Linked DNA regions of Homo sapiens: region 2 is linked to region 1. The links come from fine-mapping of genetic effects on gene expression. A gene starts in region 1. The other region holds a variant in brackets. All regions are shown on one strand. Distances are from middle to middle. Region 1 holds the start of WWC2 (WW and C2 domain containing 2). Region 2 overlaps WWC2 (WW and C2 domain containing 2).

Evidence for each region. PIP is the estimated chance that this variant, and not a neighbour inherited with it, causes the effect. A credible set is the group of variants that fine-mapping cannot tell apart.
Region 2: its variant is the best candidate, but not a certain one, in a credible set for the expression of WWC2 in adrenal gland (GTEx, PIP 0.77).

Annotation. Positions count from the first base shown.
Region 1 is chr4:183,095,794-183,104,133 of GRCh38, reverse strand. It overlaps WWC2 (WW and C2 domain containing 2), which reads right to left and starts at 4,877. Exons shown (of 23, transcript NM_024949.6): 1 at 4,512-4,877. The coding sequence starts at 4,642. WWC2-AS2 (WWC2 antisense RNA 2) reads left to right here and starts at 4,935. Exons shown (of 1, transcript NR_024008.1): 1 at 4,935-7,113. RefSeq lists a silencer at 5,824-6,118 and enhancers at 5,824-6,118, 7,464-7,758.
Region 2 is chr4:183,216,493-183,224,832 of GRCh38, reverse strand. All of the region lies in intron 4 of WWC2 (WW and C2 domain containing 2), which reads right to left. Among named protein-coding and RNA genes, the nearest start is that of WWC2-AS1, 20 kb to the left of the region's middle. The variant C/T (reference allele first, on the strand shown) is at 4,004.

The sequences.
Region 1 (8,340 bases):
CGAAAAATTAGCTGGGCGTGGTGGCAGGTGCCTGTAATCCCAGCTACTCGGGAGGCTGAGGCAGGAGAATCACTTGAACCCAGGAGGTGGAGGCTGCAGTGAGCCAACATCGCGCCATTGCACTCTAGCCTGGGCGACAATGTGAGACTCTGTCTCAAAAAAAAAGAAATTACTTAGACTTTGAAAGAAAGACAAGGCCAGGCCGGGCGTGGTGGCTCATGCCTGTAATCCCAGCACTTTGGGAGGCCAAGGTGGGCGCATCACAAGGTCAGGAGATGGAGATCATCCTGGCCAACATGGTGAAACCCCATCTCTACCAAAAATACAAAAAAATTATCTGGGTATGGTGGTGCCTGTAATCCCAGCTACTCATGAGGCTGAGGCATGAGAATCACTTGAACCCAGGCGGCGGAGGTTGCAGTGAGGCGAGATGGCACCACTGCACTCCAGTCTGGCGACACAGCAAGACTCCGTCTCAAAAAAAAAAAAAAAAAAGAGAAACACAAGTCCAGGTGCGGTGGTTCATGCCTGTAATCCCAGCACTTTGGGAGGCCGAGGCAGACAGATCACCTGAGGTCAGGAGTTCGAGACCAGCCTGGCCAACATGGTGAAACCCCATTTCTACTAAAAATACAAAAAATTAGCCGGGCGTGGTGGCAGGCGCCTGGAATCCCAGCTACTCGGGAGGCTGAGACAGGAGAATCGCTTGAACCCGGGAGCCGCAGTAAGCCGAGATCACGTCATTGCTCTCCAACTTGGGCAACAGAACGAAAACACCGTCTCAAAAAAAAAAAAAAAAAAAGACAATACAGAGTTCCTCTGATCCTAGTCATATGCCTCAAACGGGTGTGGAGAGCCAAAAGTTAACTGTGACATCAATGATATACCCAGCTGGCACCCCCTTCCTCCCTTTTCACCCTCCCCACCCCCCAAGATTATTTTTATTCAGTTAGAAGGTACAGGTTGCTCAACATCTGACCCTTGCCATAAGCCACAGATTAGTGTCTATCAGTGGGTTTTAATGGAAAGTCACTTTGCATGGTGTGAAATCTTTCAGTTCAACTAGACAAAGTCATTGTATCTCTGGGTAACATTCAATCCAAGGATAGAAAATGAGCAAAATTCTACTGGGAGTTGGTAAAGCCAACCCACCCTATCTCTGAGGCCTGCCCACTTAAGCTCCCTACTCCTCCAAAAGGCAATGAAGCCAATCCATCCCACCTTTTTCTCCTTTGTTGAATGTAATTAAAAAAAAAAAAAAAAAAGCACCAGGCCATTTGGCCAAGACCTATGGCCTACCATAAACACCAACTGGTATGTTCAAAAGGGTCCATGGTGAGCAAAAGAAGAGGGGGTAAACCTACAAAATAACACTCGGGGAGTGGGCCCATGCAGGCAGGGTAGGGGGACAAGGAATTAATCACAAACAGGGAGATTTCCCCAGGATTAGCCTAGTCACTCAGCCTGAAAAATAAACACTGGGCAAAAAGGTTCTGCCCCTCTGTGCACTCCACCCAAAGACCCCTGAACATGCGCAAGCGTCGAGACAATTTAAAGGAATGATTAAGGACACATGCTGTAGAGTCAAGCTGTCTGGCTTTAAATCCTAGCTCCACACTTAACAAGGGCTACTTCTCTGTGACTCAATTTCCTCATCTGTAACTGGAAGATGACAGTAGTACCTACCTCACAGGACCAACGGGAGAATGAAATGAGATCACAGTTAAAGAGCTTAGCAGAGTGCCTAGCACACAATACACACTGAGTAAATACTGTCCATGCTAGTATTTCTACTATTTCCAGGGTCACTCAGTTCCTAAACTGGAATGTCAACACTACACTAATACAATTAGGCTGGGCCCTAATGGTGAGCCCACAAACACCCCTATGAAGAAGATGATATTATCCTCATTTTAGAGCTGAAAAATGGAGGTTTAGAGGGATTCAGAAACTCACGTAAACTTAGTCAATAAAAGTAAGAAGTGGAGCAATAAAAGCTTTGATCACATCCCAGCAAAGTTTGAATGACGTCATTCACCTCCAAAAGCTTAAAAGCATTTTAGAATAATGCTTCAGCATTCTGGCATGACTACCTGTTGAATGAAATTATGTTCTTATAAAATGCCCTAGCCTCCCCTACTAAATCGGCATAATTATCTGTATAATCAGAAATATTCAACAAATTCTGATAGACTATCAAAAACACAAAATTCTTTTCCTTAACAGAATAACATAAAAAATATGCAAGGTAAATCATCGTGACCATTCTAATTAAATGGCTTAAACAGTTCAAAAGTACTGCAGACCCATAGTATATCAAGTTGTTTTTCTTTCAGAATTTGTAAGTTGATCCTGCAGAAGAATCCACACACTCCTATTGGCCTGTGTAACATCTCTCTTTCCATATGTTTGGTAAGTGTGTAACAAAACTGACAGGAGTTAATAGTTACTCCAAATATACGTTCCCATCAGCTCTTACTCTATTTAGTAAGATTTAGTCACTTAATTGCCCTAAAAGAAAATATAATCAAATTTAAACTGAGTATATAATGGTGACTCTGATCTCAACAGAGTATCTTTTAAAACTCTGAGATCCAGAAATATTTGTAAGTCGTCAAATTTATGTCTCTGAATATTTAAGACCTAACAGCTGCAAGGAAAATTGGAAAAATAAAAAGCTATCTTAGTCAAAACTATTTGTCCCTATCCAATGAATTGTTTATCCAGTTTCCTGAAAATAGTTCATAATAATTACTAATCCATTAAGAGTTTAAAATAAAGGACATGCTTGACTTGTGAAAAAAGTAGTGATATGGATAGCCAAGTCATATAATTTCACTCCACTTTCTATTTACTTTACCCAGACATTACATATTCTTGTAATCCTTTCCGGTAAACACAACTGAGATAATATAGTAAAGCATGTAAACCGAAGAAGAGAACCTAGAATGCCTAAATATTTCAAGAATTTATTGTTATTTCAATTACCTGAAACTCCAAGTATCAGAAAGCAGAAAGAATTACCACACAACTGTAAAAGTCAAATATTTATACAGGTGCCTTAAAAGCCGCAGTTGGGTGCACACCATCAGCACTGACATTTACTATCTGTTAAGTAGTTTCAAAGTGCAATAGCATAAGTCAAATAACTGGCTTGGAGCGTGAAGTTTATGACAACAACTAGCACGTCTGGAGACACTGGGAAGGTGTGATGCCTGTCACAATTTTCATCAGGCCAGCAACAGGCAGCCAGGCTGCGGCAAGACCGAACCTCAGCACAGGTGCCTTTTCTCATTTCAGGAGGGAAACCTAGGCCCGTAGCTTCACGGATAATTGAACAAGGATTGTTCCATAAATTTATAATGTTATTTATAACTTTCTTGTAATTGCCTTTTAGTAGCTTTCAAAAACAACATTTTTAGGGCAAAAGTAACTGAGATTATAAAGTAGTTAGGTATTTCAGCTTCAAATTGAGAAAAGGGAAAATGTTAAATAGGAGAAGCACCTAAAAAGTATATAAAGCCCAAAGGGCCACATTCAATAAAGTTATAATTTTCAGAAATGACAAAAGTCCAAATGTCGAAGTTATCCCTGGTGGCACGTTATTTAAATTTACAATTAGGAATATCTCCTTAATGGATAATTTACAAATTTATAATTAGGAATACCTCCTATTATTCTTACAATAATTCTAAGAAATTTTAAGGGTAAAAAAAATATGGGACACAGAAACATTTGTGAACCTTCAGTTCCTGAACCAATTTAAAAAACAAAAAACAAAGAAACCAGGCTAAGCTCAAATCAGAGTGCCTCAATACCCAACGTTAATTTCACTACATCTCCCTTCCAAACACAATATGCCTGTTCCCGATCTGGGAGTCGGTTCAAGTTTTCAGGTGAAGACTAACGACAGACAGCGAAACCCCCAAACGCGCGTTTTTAAACTCTGAGGGGCAAAGTCAGTCACACCCACTAGCAGGGCCCGGCGGGGGGCGGGAGCCCCTTCCCAGCTCGGGACCTCCGGCCAGTCTGGGCGCCCCCGCCAAGAGCTCGCAGCCCAGGCTCCCGCGCCAAGGACGGCCTGAGGGATGCCACAGGTGGCCCGGAGGGCTCGTTCCCCAACTGGCAGTGAGGCCCTAGCCCACCCCCGCCGCCCAGAGGCCGAAGGTGTCCTGCAGCCTCCACGTGGGCACCTCGAAGCCTAGGGAAGTTCCTAACAGGGCTCAGGTGGCCCCTCGGGTCCGTTAGCCTGGCGCGCGGCGTCGGCCCGGGGCAGCGACTCCAGCCTTGCCTCGGGGCCGGGTCCCCGGAGGGGCGTCGGGAAGCCGGTGGGCGGAGGAGCCCGGGTACGGGCGGCTCCTCGGCCCCGCCGGAGCAGCCAGCCCCACATCCCTCCCGGGACCCCTCGGGGCACCGCGGGCCGGCGCCGCCCCAGCCCCCCGCGCGGCCGGGTCTCCGGGACAACAGCCGCCGTGTCCGAACGGGCCCGCGCCCCCGCGGCCGGCGCCCACCTGTCCCGGGGGTCGATCCAGCTGGTCCTCCTGGTGTTGTGGTCAATGTAGAAGACCTTGCCGTCGTAGTCCCTGGCCTCCTCCCAGCCCCGGGGCAGCGGCAGCTGACCGCTCCCGGCCCTCCTAGGCATGGTCGGCGGCCTCGCCGGCGAGCGGCGCCTCCATAGGTACCGGGCGCGGGACGCGGCGGGAACGCGGCTGCCGGGCTAGGCTGCCAACCCGCGACGCGGGCGCCGGCGAGGGGCTGAGGGGCGCAGGGCGCGGGGCGCGGCGGAACCACGCGCGGGAGGTGCCTCAGGAAACGCTGTTCGCGGCCCCGCTGCGGATCAGTCCACCATGTCTGCGTCGGAGCCGGCGAGCGAACCCTCCTCCCCCTCGCCGCCGCTGCCTCCGCCTCTTCCTCCTCCTCCGCCCCGTCCCCCTCTGGCCGCCGAGGGTCGCGGCGCCCAGGCTGCCGGAGCCGCCGCCGTCTGGGCTCGGATCCGGGAAGCTGCGGCGCTGCCGCGGCAGCGGCGGGCCCCTCATTTGCATGCGATTAGCATGCGCCCGCCCGCCTCATCTGCATGCGCATTCCTCGCGCCGCATTCCTGAGCTTAACCCCGCCGCTGCCGGCGTCGCCGCACCAGCTCGGACGCACTGCCCCGCGGGGCCGCGGCTCCAGGTGGGAGGAAGGCGGGCGAAGGAATGTGCGGCCAGCTCCCTCCCCTTGACCCCAGATAGCTCCCCTGGGCCAAACGCCGAGAGGTTTTAGAGTTTCTGGACGGGGAAGATTGCAAAAGTCTCCGCAACCTTCTCAACCTCTTTCGTCTTCTAGGGAAACCACAAAACTTTCGAGAGGAAAGGGGTGGCGGGCGGGGAGCTCTCCTCCGGAGAAAAAACCTCAACAAGCGGAGAGGGCACAAAGGCTCCCCACGCCGCGCCCCGAGCCCCTCCGGCACCCCAAGGGCGGTCCGGGGTGGTGGGAAAGCGCCAAGCCCTGGGAGTGCGTCGGTGGGTCCGGGACGGCGGGGCCTCCGCCAGGGCTCCTGGCCCTCGATGACCTCGGCTGAGACCGCGAGCCGCGCGGCGGAAAGCGGAGGAACTCCCGTCCGGCCCTGTAGCCGCCCGCACCGCGCCCCGTCACCCGCCGCCCCTTCGCGTCCGGGCGCTCCAGCCGCGGGGCCCCGGAAGCTCCTGGTCCCTGGCCTCCCCTGCTTGGTTCGGGGCGGTTGGCCGTGGACGCGCCCCGACTCTAGTCCCTTCCGTCCAGCCGCCCGCCCCAGGATGTCCCCCCACCGCAGCCCCGCCGTGGCCAGGAGGTGTGGGCGGCCACGCCGGAGGGACCCACGGCGGCGCCGGACGCCCGCCCTTCCTAGGCCCTGGCCCGGCCGGGGTGGGCCGGGACGTTCCCTGTTGCATAGGCATTTATTTATTCAGCAGCTACTACGTACGTGCTGGCCCGCACTGCCGAGGGACCGGACGCCTGCCCCAGGCGGGACAATGCCGGGTGCAGCGCTGGCGGGGCCTGGACGCCAAGCTTCAGGGTCCCCAGCCCCTCAGTCAGAGGGGGCGCCTCCCAGGCCCTGGACTCCTCTCCAGCCGGGTCTACACCACCGTCCCCCGTCATCTTCTTCTGGGTTACTGAGCAGCTTCTTTTAAAATAGCAACACCGAGGAAGGCCCCGAAGCCCAGTCTTGCACCTCGTGGTGTGAAGTCGTTTAATCCTGCCCGCTAATGCGTAAGGACTTTCCACCGTGTGCAGGACTCCGCGCTGGGCAGGGGCTCTCGCAGGGTTTGAACCGACCTCCGCCTCCCCTGCGGGTTCACAGGCCTGCGAGGAAGTCGCGTGAAGGAGATTCGCTACTGTGTGAGGCTGGCCTGCGCGGCGTGGGCAGTAGCTGTCCGGGGCTGGGGACAGCTTTCGGCTCCCCAGGCCATCCCGTCGGGGCATCTGCGGCCAATCTCGAAGGTGGAGAGGCTCAGGGTTGGAACAGACTTCACGGAAGGGGTCCTAGAAGAGGAAAGGGGTCGTGTTTGCCCTTAGAGCAGTCTGGGCGTGAAGCGGAAACTTTAAACCACCAGAAACTCTGGAGAGCTTGGAGCACCTGGGAAGGAGCAACCAGAGTGGGCCGGAGGTAGGGAAGGAAGGCACCCACGGCGAATTTGCCCGCTTTGACCGCATTTAGGGCGGCCGCTTGTGCAGCCAGCCTTCTGGAAGGTAGGCTTTGCGCTTGGTGAAGAGAAGCCCCCACCTCCGGATCTGTGTTCCGCCCCAGTCCATTCATCAGGAGGTGATCACACAAGTCAAGCTTCTCTAGTTCCCGGTGGAATGAGACGCCCTGGTGGGGTCTTAAGGTTGAACGTTTGAATACTGTAAAAAAGATGGGACCTGCCTACAATTAATCTCTCACACTACTGAGCGAATGTGCGTTGTTTTGGACTTCCCTAAATTGGCCCAAATGCATAGCCAACACTTGAATTGCGGTGTACTAACAACATCATTCAGCACCAAACCAAACCATTCTTATTTAAACCTTGCTTCCTAGCTTATTTATTTCCCAAACAACTTGAAAACATTTGTTATACTAAAATGTCTACATCTTACTATTAAAAAAAAAAAACCAAAGTAACACACTTTGCTGCTGCCGTAATTTTATGTCACTGAGATGAACTATTCTACAATACTTGTAATTTCAAATTTGTTAAACTTTCAGCTAAGTAGTTTTACCCAAATTCTAAAACCAGTGAGGAATCCAAAATAGCACGCAGCATTAAATGACGTTTATTGTTCCATAAATCTTCAGACTTCAAAAAGAAACGCTAAATAGACAAACAGAACTCTAAAGCAATTAAGAGACAAGCTCGCTGCTTCTTCCCCACTGACTGGCAAGGAAACATTTGGTCATACAAAAGCCATTAAAATGACGGAAAGGAGAGTTGCCACTCTCTAGCCTTTTTTGTTCTGATCAAGTTTGAACTCTGCTGTTCGGAGTTCACACAATTTACGTAGTAACAGACCTTCAGAGAATTCCTAACGGTCAAGACAATGAAATTGCATTTATATCTGTAAAAGGAAAAGAAACATGAAGATTATCCCCATTTTAGAGGTGGACACATTTAGATTTGATTTGAGCTCCAGATGATCCTTGGCAAAGAAAGATGATGCAATCCGGTGTACAGGACGCCATATTGCCCTAGCCTGGAACCGTGTTCTAGCCGCTGAAGAGCCTATTCTGTGGCTTTCAAAATGTTCTTTTCTCCTAGCTTTACGTTTTCTCTCCAGCGCTAAATCCGTGGGGATAAGCCACCATAAACAAAGCTCCCACTGTCAATGTCCTAATCTTGAGTGGCAGGAAAATTGGTAATATCAAAAATGGGAGTAGACAGTGAAAATTATTTTAAAAGATAATTCTATTATGTACAAATTTAAAAGATATCAGGTGGGCCGGGCGTGGTGGTTCACGCCTGTAATCTCAGCACTTTGGGAGGCTGAGGTGGGCGGATCACCTGAGGTCAGGGGTTCGAGACCAGCCCGGCCAACATGGCAAAACCCCGTCTGTGCTAAAAAATACAAAAATTAGTCAGGTGTGGTGGCAGGCAGCTGTAATCCCAGCTACTCGGGAGGCTGAGGCAGGAGAATCGCTTGAACCTGGGAGGCGGAGGTTGCAGTGGGCCGAGATCCTGCCACTGCACTCCAGCCTGGGCAACAGAGCAATACTCCATCTAAAAAAAATAAAATAAAAATAAAATATATCAAGCACACCTATAGTCCCAGCTGCTCAGGAGGCTGAGGCAAGAAGATCACTTGAGGCTAGGAGTTCAAGGCACTATAACCGTGCCTTTGAATAGC
Region 2 (8,340 bases), 120 kb before region 1:
TCCCAGAACTTTGAGAGGCTGAGGCAGGCAGATCACTTGAGGTCAGGAGTTTGAGACCAGCCTGACCAACATGGTGAAACCTCATCTCTACTAAACATACAAAAATTAGCTAGGCGTGGTGGCACATGTCTGTAATCTCAGCTACTCGGGAGGCTAAGGCACAAGAATCACTTGAGCCCAGGAGGTAGGGGTTGCAGTGAGCTGAGATGGCGCCAGTGCACTCCATCCTGGGTGACAGAGCGAGACTCCGTCTCAAAAAATAAACAAAAAACAAAAACAAAACTAAACAAAAACCTCAACTCTGTTGGTTATCTCTGGCAGGTGCTAGACAGAGATATGGCACAGTTTATAATTTCATCTATCTTTCCAATATGAGCTGAGGATCAGTAAATAACAAACAGAAGTGGTGATGCAGGGGGAAAGTTTCTCTTTATAGAGGTATTCCAACAAATAAATAAATAAATAAGGAATGGTATACTTAGACTGTAATATTTTTGCAATCCCTAACGAAATAACAAATCTAGACGATAAATTACTACTACAATAAAAAAGAGACATGCACTTCATGATGGATATATACAGCACAACCCATGGTGAATGTCCCCGCCCCAAAAAAACTAGATCTCATAATCCTCTACATCTAATTAATAATTTACAGGAATTATAGGAACAAAGGAATTTAAGTACACCATGGGGATGTAAGATACAAAAATCAGACAGCGAGGAATTCTACAAATGACCTAGTTTTGTTTTGTTTTGTTTTAAGTTACAAAGAAAAGAGGGCGATTAAAATTAGACTTCAGCTGGGTGCGGTGGCACACACCTGTAATCCCAGCACTTTGGGAGGCCGAGGTGGGGGGGATAGCCTGAGGTCAGGAGTTCGAGACCAGCCTGGCCAACATGGCTAAATCCTGTCTCTACTAAAAACACAAAAATTAGCTGGGCATGGTGGCAGGTGCCTATAGTCCCAGCTACTCAGGAGGCTGAGGCAGGAGAATCACTTGAACCCAGGAGGCAGACGTTGCAGTGAGCCGAGATTGCCGCACTGCCCTTCAGCCTGGGTAAGACTTCTGGGTAAGACAAGGTGAGACTCCGTCTCAAAAAAAGACAATAAATAAAAAATAAAATAAAATTAGACTTCAGAAATATATTTACCAATTGCAATATATAGACCATATTTACACCCTGATTCAAAAAAGCCAATAGAAAAACAAATGAGAAACATAAATATTGATAAGGCATTTGGACAGCAATAAAGAATTCTAGTTAACTTTTCCAAAATAATAATGGCATTGTAGTTACTTTCTTCTTAGCTTTAAAAATACATGCTGAAATGTTTACAGGTGAATGATACACTATTTCAAGTTGTCATGAAAATAATTCAGAGGGTAGGCTGAAAGTAAAAGATAAAATGGATGAGATGTGACGGAAATATGGGAGAAAATTATACTATTCTCTCTACTCATGTATATTGTTTAGTATTTCCCATAATAAAGTTTAGTCATGTGTCACTTCATCAGATTACACTCTTAGAAATACGATGTTGGGCAATTCTGCTATCACGTGAATATCACAGAGTACACTTACACAGAACCAGATAGCATAGCCTGCTACACACCTAGGCCACTTGGCATAGCCTATTGTCTTAGGCTACAAACCTGTACAGCATGTTACTGTACTGAAAACTGTAGGCAACTGTAACATAATTGTAAGCATTTGTGTATCTAAACATATCAAAAGATAGAAAGGGTATAGCAAAAACATGGCATCATAATCTCATGGGACTACCATCATATATATGTGGTTTGTCATTGACTGCAGTGTCATTTATTTGGCACGTAACTATATTTTTATTATTTTATTTTTTGAGACAGCATCTCACTCTGTCTCCCAGGCTGGAGTACAGTGGCACAATCTCAGCTCATTGCAACCTCTGCCTCCCAGGTTCAAGTGATTCTCGTGCCTCAGCTTCCTGAGTAGCTGGGACTACAGGTATGTGCACCACCACATGCGACTAATTTTTGTATTTTTATTAACAGTAGAGATGGGTTTTCACCACGTTGGCCAGTCTGGTCTCAAACCCCTGGCCTCAAGTGATCTGCCCGCCTCAGCCTCCCAAAGTGCTAGGAGTGAGCCACCACGCCTGGCCACATATTTTTATATGTAAGGTAAATTTGTTCTAGTAACATGTCCAGATGATATTCTGAAAATTTCTCTCTTGTTCCCCCTCCTACATCCCCAAATTAGGATTTTGATATTGCATCCTTATATTGTTTCTATTTTTTAAAATATCTTTCATTTATTAAAATTTGTTTATATCCTTCAAAAATGTTTTATAATTTTCTCTAGATAGGACCACTATATTTCTTGATAAAAGTTAATTCTAGATATTTTATGATTTGGGTTTGCTATTGTGAATATGATTTTTTAATTTTATATATTATGAATGGCTATCATAGATATGTTAAAAGATTTTACATATATATAAAATACATATAGATTCTATTTATTAGTTCTAATAATTATTCATCTGAATCTTTTCCTCCCACATAGAAAATGGTATTTTAACCATATTTATTTATAATAAATGGCACAAATTTTAAATGTACAATATGATGAGTTTAGACAAGTATATATAATCATGTACCACCAGGACGACAACAAAATATTTCCTCACGCCTCTTTATAGTCTATCTCTACCTGGCCCCTAGCAACCACTAAACTTTCACTGTTTTTGAAATTCATCCATGTTGTATCAGTAACCTGTTCCTTTTAAATTACATTTTATGGATATATCACAATTTGTTTATCCATTTATCTATTGATAGACATTTAGGCTGGTTCCCAGTTTAGGCTAATAAGCATAAAGCTCTCATAAATATTTACACTGAATTCGTTGTATGGGTATATGCTTTCATTTATATTGGGTAAATACCTGTAAGTGTGATTGCTAGATAGTATGTTAAATATGTTTAACTTTGTAAGAAATCGCTAACCCGCTTTCCAAAAGGGTTGTACCATTTTGCATTCCCATAGCAATGTATGAGACTTCCATTTGCTAATGGCTTCCCATTAAGCACTGCTGTAGCTATACCCAATAAATGTTTATACAGTGTATTTTCCCTTTTATTTAGTTCAAAATATTTTTAAATGTTCCTCATGAGCTCTCTTCTTTGGCCAATGAATTATTGAGAAGTATGCTAATAATTTCCAAGTATTTGACAATTTTTCCAGATATATTTCTGTTTATGATGTCTAATTTAATTCCACTGTAGTTATACTCTATGCATTTGAGTCCCCTTAAATGTACTGAGACTTCTTTTCATATTCTAGAGTAAGGATTACTTTTGTGATGTTCCGTGTGCACTTCTGCTGTTTTTAAATGGTGTGTTCTATTTTATAAATGTTAATTGGATCAAGTTGGTCTGTTATTGTTTACATCTTCGACAGCATTGCTGATTATCTGACTACACATTCTATCATGTCCAACTATAATTAGAGATTTGTCCTTCACCTTGCAGTTGTATTGGTCTTTATTCCAGGTATTTGAAGCTCTGTTAGCATGTGCATACATCTTTAAGATTCTTATGTCCTTTGATGAACTGATCTATTTATGATTATAAAATCTCTAGTAATAGTCCTTGTTCTGAAGTTTAGTTTGTCTGATATTAATATGACAACTGCAACATTCTTCGGATTTGTATTTTCATGATATATCTTCTTGAATATTTTAATTAACCTATCTAGGCCTTTATATTTAAAGTAGGTCTGTTGCAGCTATCATGAAATTGGGTCTTGTTTTAACCATTCTGATAATCTTTGCCTTTTAATTGGAGCATTTAGGCCATTTATTAATACATTTAGTATATTAGCTTTCTTATTGTCATATTTTCTTCCTCTATTCTTGCCTTCTTTTGGGTTAACTAAATTTTTTCTAATGGTTCCATTTTATCTCCTTTATTGGCTTAAAAGTGTTACCTTTTTTTTTTTTTTCTTTTTGAGA[C/T]GGAGTCTCGCTCTGTCGCCCAGGCTGGGGTGCAGTGGCACGATGTTGGCTCACTGCAAGCTCCGCCTCCCGGGTTCACGCCATTCTCCTGGCTCAGCCTCCCGAGTAGCTGGGACTACAGGCGCCCGCCACCACGCCCGGCTACTTTTTTGTATTTTTAGTAGAGATGGCGTTTCACTGTGTTAGCCAGGATGGTCTCAATCTCCTGACCTTGTGATCTGCCCACCTTGACCTCCCAAAGTGCTGGAATTACAGGCGTGAGCCACCGCGCCCGGCCATTTTTTTTTTTTTTTTTAAAGTGGATACTCTAGGGCAGGAATCAGCAAATGACAGCTCATCTTGTGGCCTGATTTTTGTTTTTGTTTTATGGCCCACAAGTTAATAAAGGTTTGTAAATGTTTAACTATTATCCAAGAAAAGTAGAAAAAAAGAGCAAAAATCTGCACCAGAGACTGCACATGGCCTGCTATATGAGTTTTCTGATGCTGCAGGACAAATTACCACAGACTTAGCAGCTTAAAATTAATTACAATTATTTAATAGCTCACTAGGTTCTCTGGGCTCTCTGGTCAAATTATCACAAAGCTGAAATCAGGGTGTTAGCCAGGCTGAGTTGTCATCTGGGGCTTTGCAGAAAAATCCACTCCAAACTTCATTCTCACTTTTGGCAGCATTCAGTTCCTTGTGGCTCTAGGACTGAGACTTGTATTCCTTGCTGGCTATCAGTCAAGGTTGCTCTCAGTTTCTTCCCATGTTGGCCTCTCCCTCTGTAATCCAGCAATGGTACATTTAAACCCTCTTATGCTTTGACATCTAATGTCCTCCCCTACAACCAGCCAGAGAAATTCTGTCTTTAAAGGGCTTGTGTGTTACCTCCAGTTCCCCAGGATAATTTCTCTACCACCCAGAATAATTTCTCTATCTTAAAGTTAACTCTGCCATATTAAATAATGAATCATATTCAGCCTGGAAATTATGAAAGGCATGCATACTAGGAAAGGTGGGGGAGGGGAAAACCTTGGAGGATTGGAAAATATTTTAGAATTCTGCTTACTATACCTGCAACATCTAAAATATTTACTATTTGGATCTTTATAGAAAAAGTTTGCTCTAATGTATAAAATGTGCAGTCTACTTCCAATAAAAGTCACTACTTTATGAATAGTCAAAGTGCCTTATGACAGCATCCTTCCGTTCTCCCCCATTCTGTGATGTCTTATATTTTGCTTTTAAATATTTTATAAACCTCACAACCTATTTTATTATCTTTGTTTAAATAGGCATTTTTATTTAAAGAGACTTCAAATTATTTAAAAAGTCTTGTATTTGAATATGTATCATCTCTAACATTTTTCATTATTTTATTTAGATCCAAATTTCCAGGTGGTATCATTTTCCCTCTGCTTGAAGACATTACCTTTAACATCTAATATGTTACAGCTCTGCAGGCACTCAGTTCTCTTGTTTGTCTGAAAAATTATTTTATTCTTTATTTTTGTGGTAAAATATAAATGTTAAGACTTACCATTTAAGTATACAATCATGTGGTATTAAGTGCAACCATTATCACTGGTCATTTCCTGAAATTTTTCATTGTTCTAAACTGAAACTCTGTCCCTATTAAACAGTAACTCCTTTCTCTTCTTCCTCAGCCCCTGGTAACCACTGTTCTATTTTCTGTGTCTATGAAATTGCTTATTCTAGGTACCTTACATAAGATGAATCATATTTGTTCTTTTGTGTCTGGCTTATTTCACTTAACATAATGTTTTCAAGGTTCATCCATGTTGTAGTATGTACCAGAATTTCATTATGTTTTAAAGCTTAATAATATTGCATTATATGTATATGCCATATTTTGTTGACATTTACCTGTGATGGACACATAGGTTGTAGGTATGTAATAGTTAATTTTATGTGTCAATTTGGAGGATATTTTTGGATAAGATTAATTTTTAAACTGGTGAACTCTGAGTATACAGATTGCCCTCCATAATGTGAATATACCTCATCCAATCAGTTGAAGCCCTGATCAGAATAAAAAAACTGACCTCTCTAACCTAGTAGGAATTCAACAGACTGCCTTTGGACTTCATCTGCACTGCCAGCTTTCCTGGGTCTCCGCCTGCCAGCCTTCAGACTTCATCTGCACCATCAGCTTTCCTGGGTCTCCAGGCTGCTGGTCTTTGGACTGGAACTGTACTGGCTCTCCTGTGCCTCCAGTTTGTCAGCCCATGCCGCAAATCTGGACTCGCCAGTTTCCATAATTGTGTCAGCCAATTCTTTATAACAAATATCTTCCTAGATTAGAAGATATGTATCAAAATCTATATAGATATATATCAAAAAGTTAAATTTAGAATTACCTTGTGATCGAACAATTCCACTTCTGGATATATACCCCAAAGAACCGAAAGCAGAGACTCAAACAGATACTTATATACCAATGTCCAACCTGTGTTAGTCAGTTGTTTTTTTTTTTTAAGTAATAGCTTTCCTAATAGGTGTGAAGTGATATCTCCTTGTAATTTTGATTTGCATTTCCCTAATGACTAGTGATGTTTATCATCTTTTCATATGCTTATTGGCCATTTGTATATCTTTGCAGAAATGTCTATTGAAGTCTCTTGCCCATTTTTATACTGGCTGTTTTGCCTTCAATTTAAAAGATATTTTCACTACGTATAGAAATCTAGGTTGACAGTTTTTCTTTTAGTATTGGTACTCTTAAAATACCACTCCACTATCTTATAGTTTGTATTATTTCTGATGAGGAGTCTGTTGTAATTCTTATCTTTATTCCACTGTACATAATGACTTTTTCTATGGCTACTTTTAAGATTTTCTCTTTACCATTGATTTCTGGCAATATGATTATGATGTGCTTTGGTATGATCTTTTTTTTTCATTCTGCCTTGGGTTTGTTGAATTTCCTATATTGATGGATTAATAATTTCAGTTTCTGCAAATAATTGTTGTGATTTCCTCCCCTGCTGTTTCTAGGGAACTTTAATTACACATGTCTAACTATCTGATATTGAACCACAGGACACTGACATGCTGATAAATTTTTACCAGACTTTGTTTTCTCTGTGTAATTCATTTTCGGTAGTTTCTATTCCTATGTCTTTAACTTCACTGATCTTTTATTTGGTAATGTATAATCAGCTGTTACTCCCATATAGTTATTTTATTTCTGATATTGTATTTTTAATCTGTAGAAGTTCCATTTTGTTTTTTTTAATATATTTTTTCTCCCCATTTTCACATTTTCCTTTACATTCTTGAGCATATGTATAACATGTTTTAACATGTTTGTCTGCTAATTAAATTGTACCTGTCATTTCTTCTTTTTGTTGTGGATCATATTTCCTTGCTTCTTTGCATACCTGATCATTCTTAACAGCTTTATTGATGTATAACTAGCATATAATAAAGTGAATATGTTTAAACTACATACATAAGTGTTGACACATGTATATACACATGTAACTGTCAATACACTTTTAGAATATACCCAACACTCCCAAAGGTTTCCTGATGCCCTCTTGGTAAGCCCTCTTTTGCCCCTCCACACTACTCTCATCCCCAATACACATGAAAAATTCTGACTAGATACTGGCCATTGTGAATTTTACATTCTTGGTGCTGGATTTTACTGTATTATCTTAAAGGATCCTGGACTTTGTTCTAGCACACAAATAAATTATTTTAAATCAATTTGATCCTTTCAATGTTTGCTTTCAATTTTTGTTAGAAGAAGTCCAATGCAGCACTAGCCTCAGACTAATTTGGTCCCACTACTATGGCATTACCCTTCTGATGTTTCTGTTCAAGGTTCTATGTCTCTATGCTGGCTGATGGAAACACAAACTATTCCCAGCCCTATGTGAGCTCTGAGAACTGCCCTATCACTTTCTTTCTCCAGCCTCATGGTATTGTGTACCATGGCTACTCAATCAGTATTCAGTCAAAGATTTGAGGAGACCCTACTAGAAATCTCTAGACTGGCACTTGCCTGCTCTTGCTCTCTTCTATCTCTGTAGCTCCCTTCTCTCTGGTATTTCCTATATATTCTAGCCACTTCTCCGCCAATGAACTTTTCTCTTCTGTCTCATCAACTCATGCACACCACTAGACTATGTTTGGGTCCTTCTCCTCATACTGCAAACAGTGCAATCCCAGGGCTCACTTCATCTGTTTCCTTTCAGTTAAGAATTACAGTCTTCTACTGTTACCTGAAGTCTGAAAACAGCTGTTTCCTAGATTTTTGTCCAGTTCTCTAATCACCTGCTGTTAGAGGGCAATTCTTGTGGTAGTTAATCTTTCATGGACAG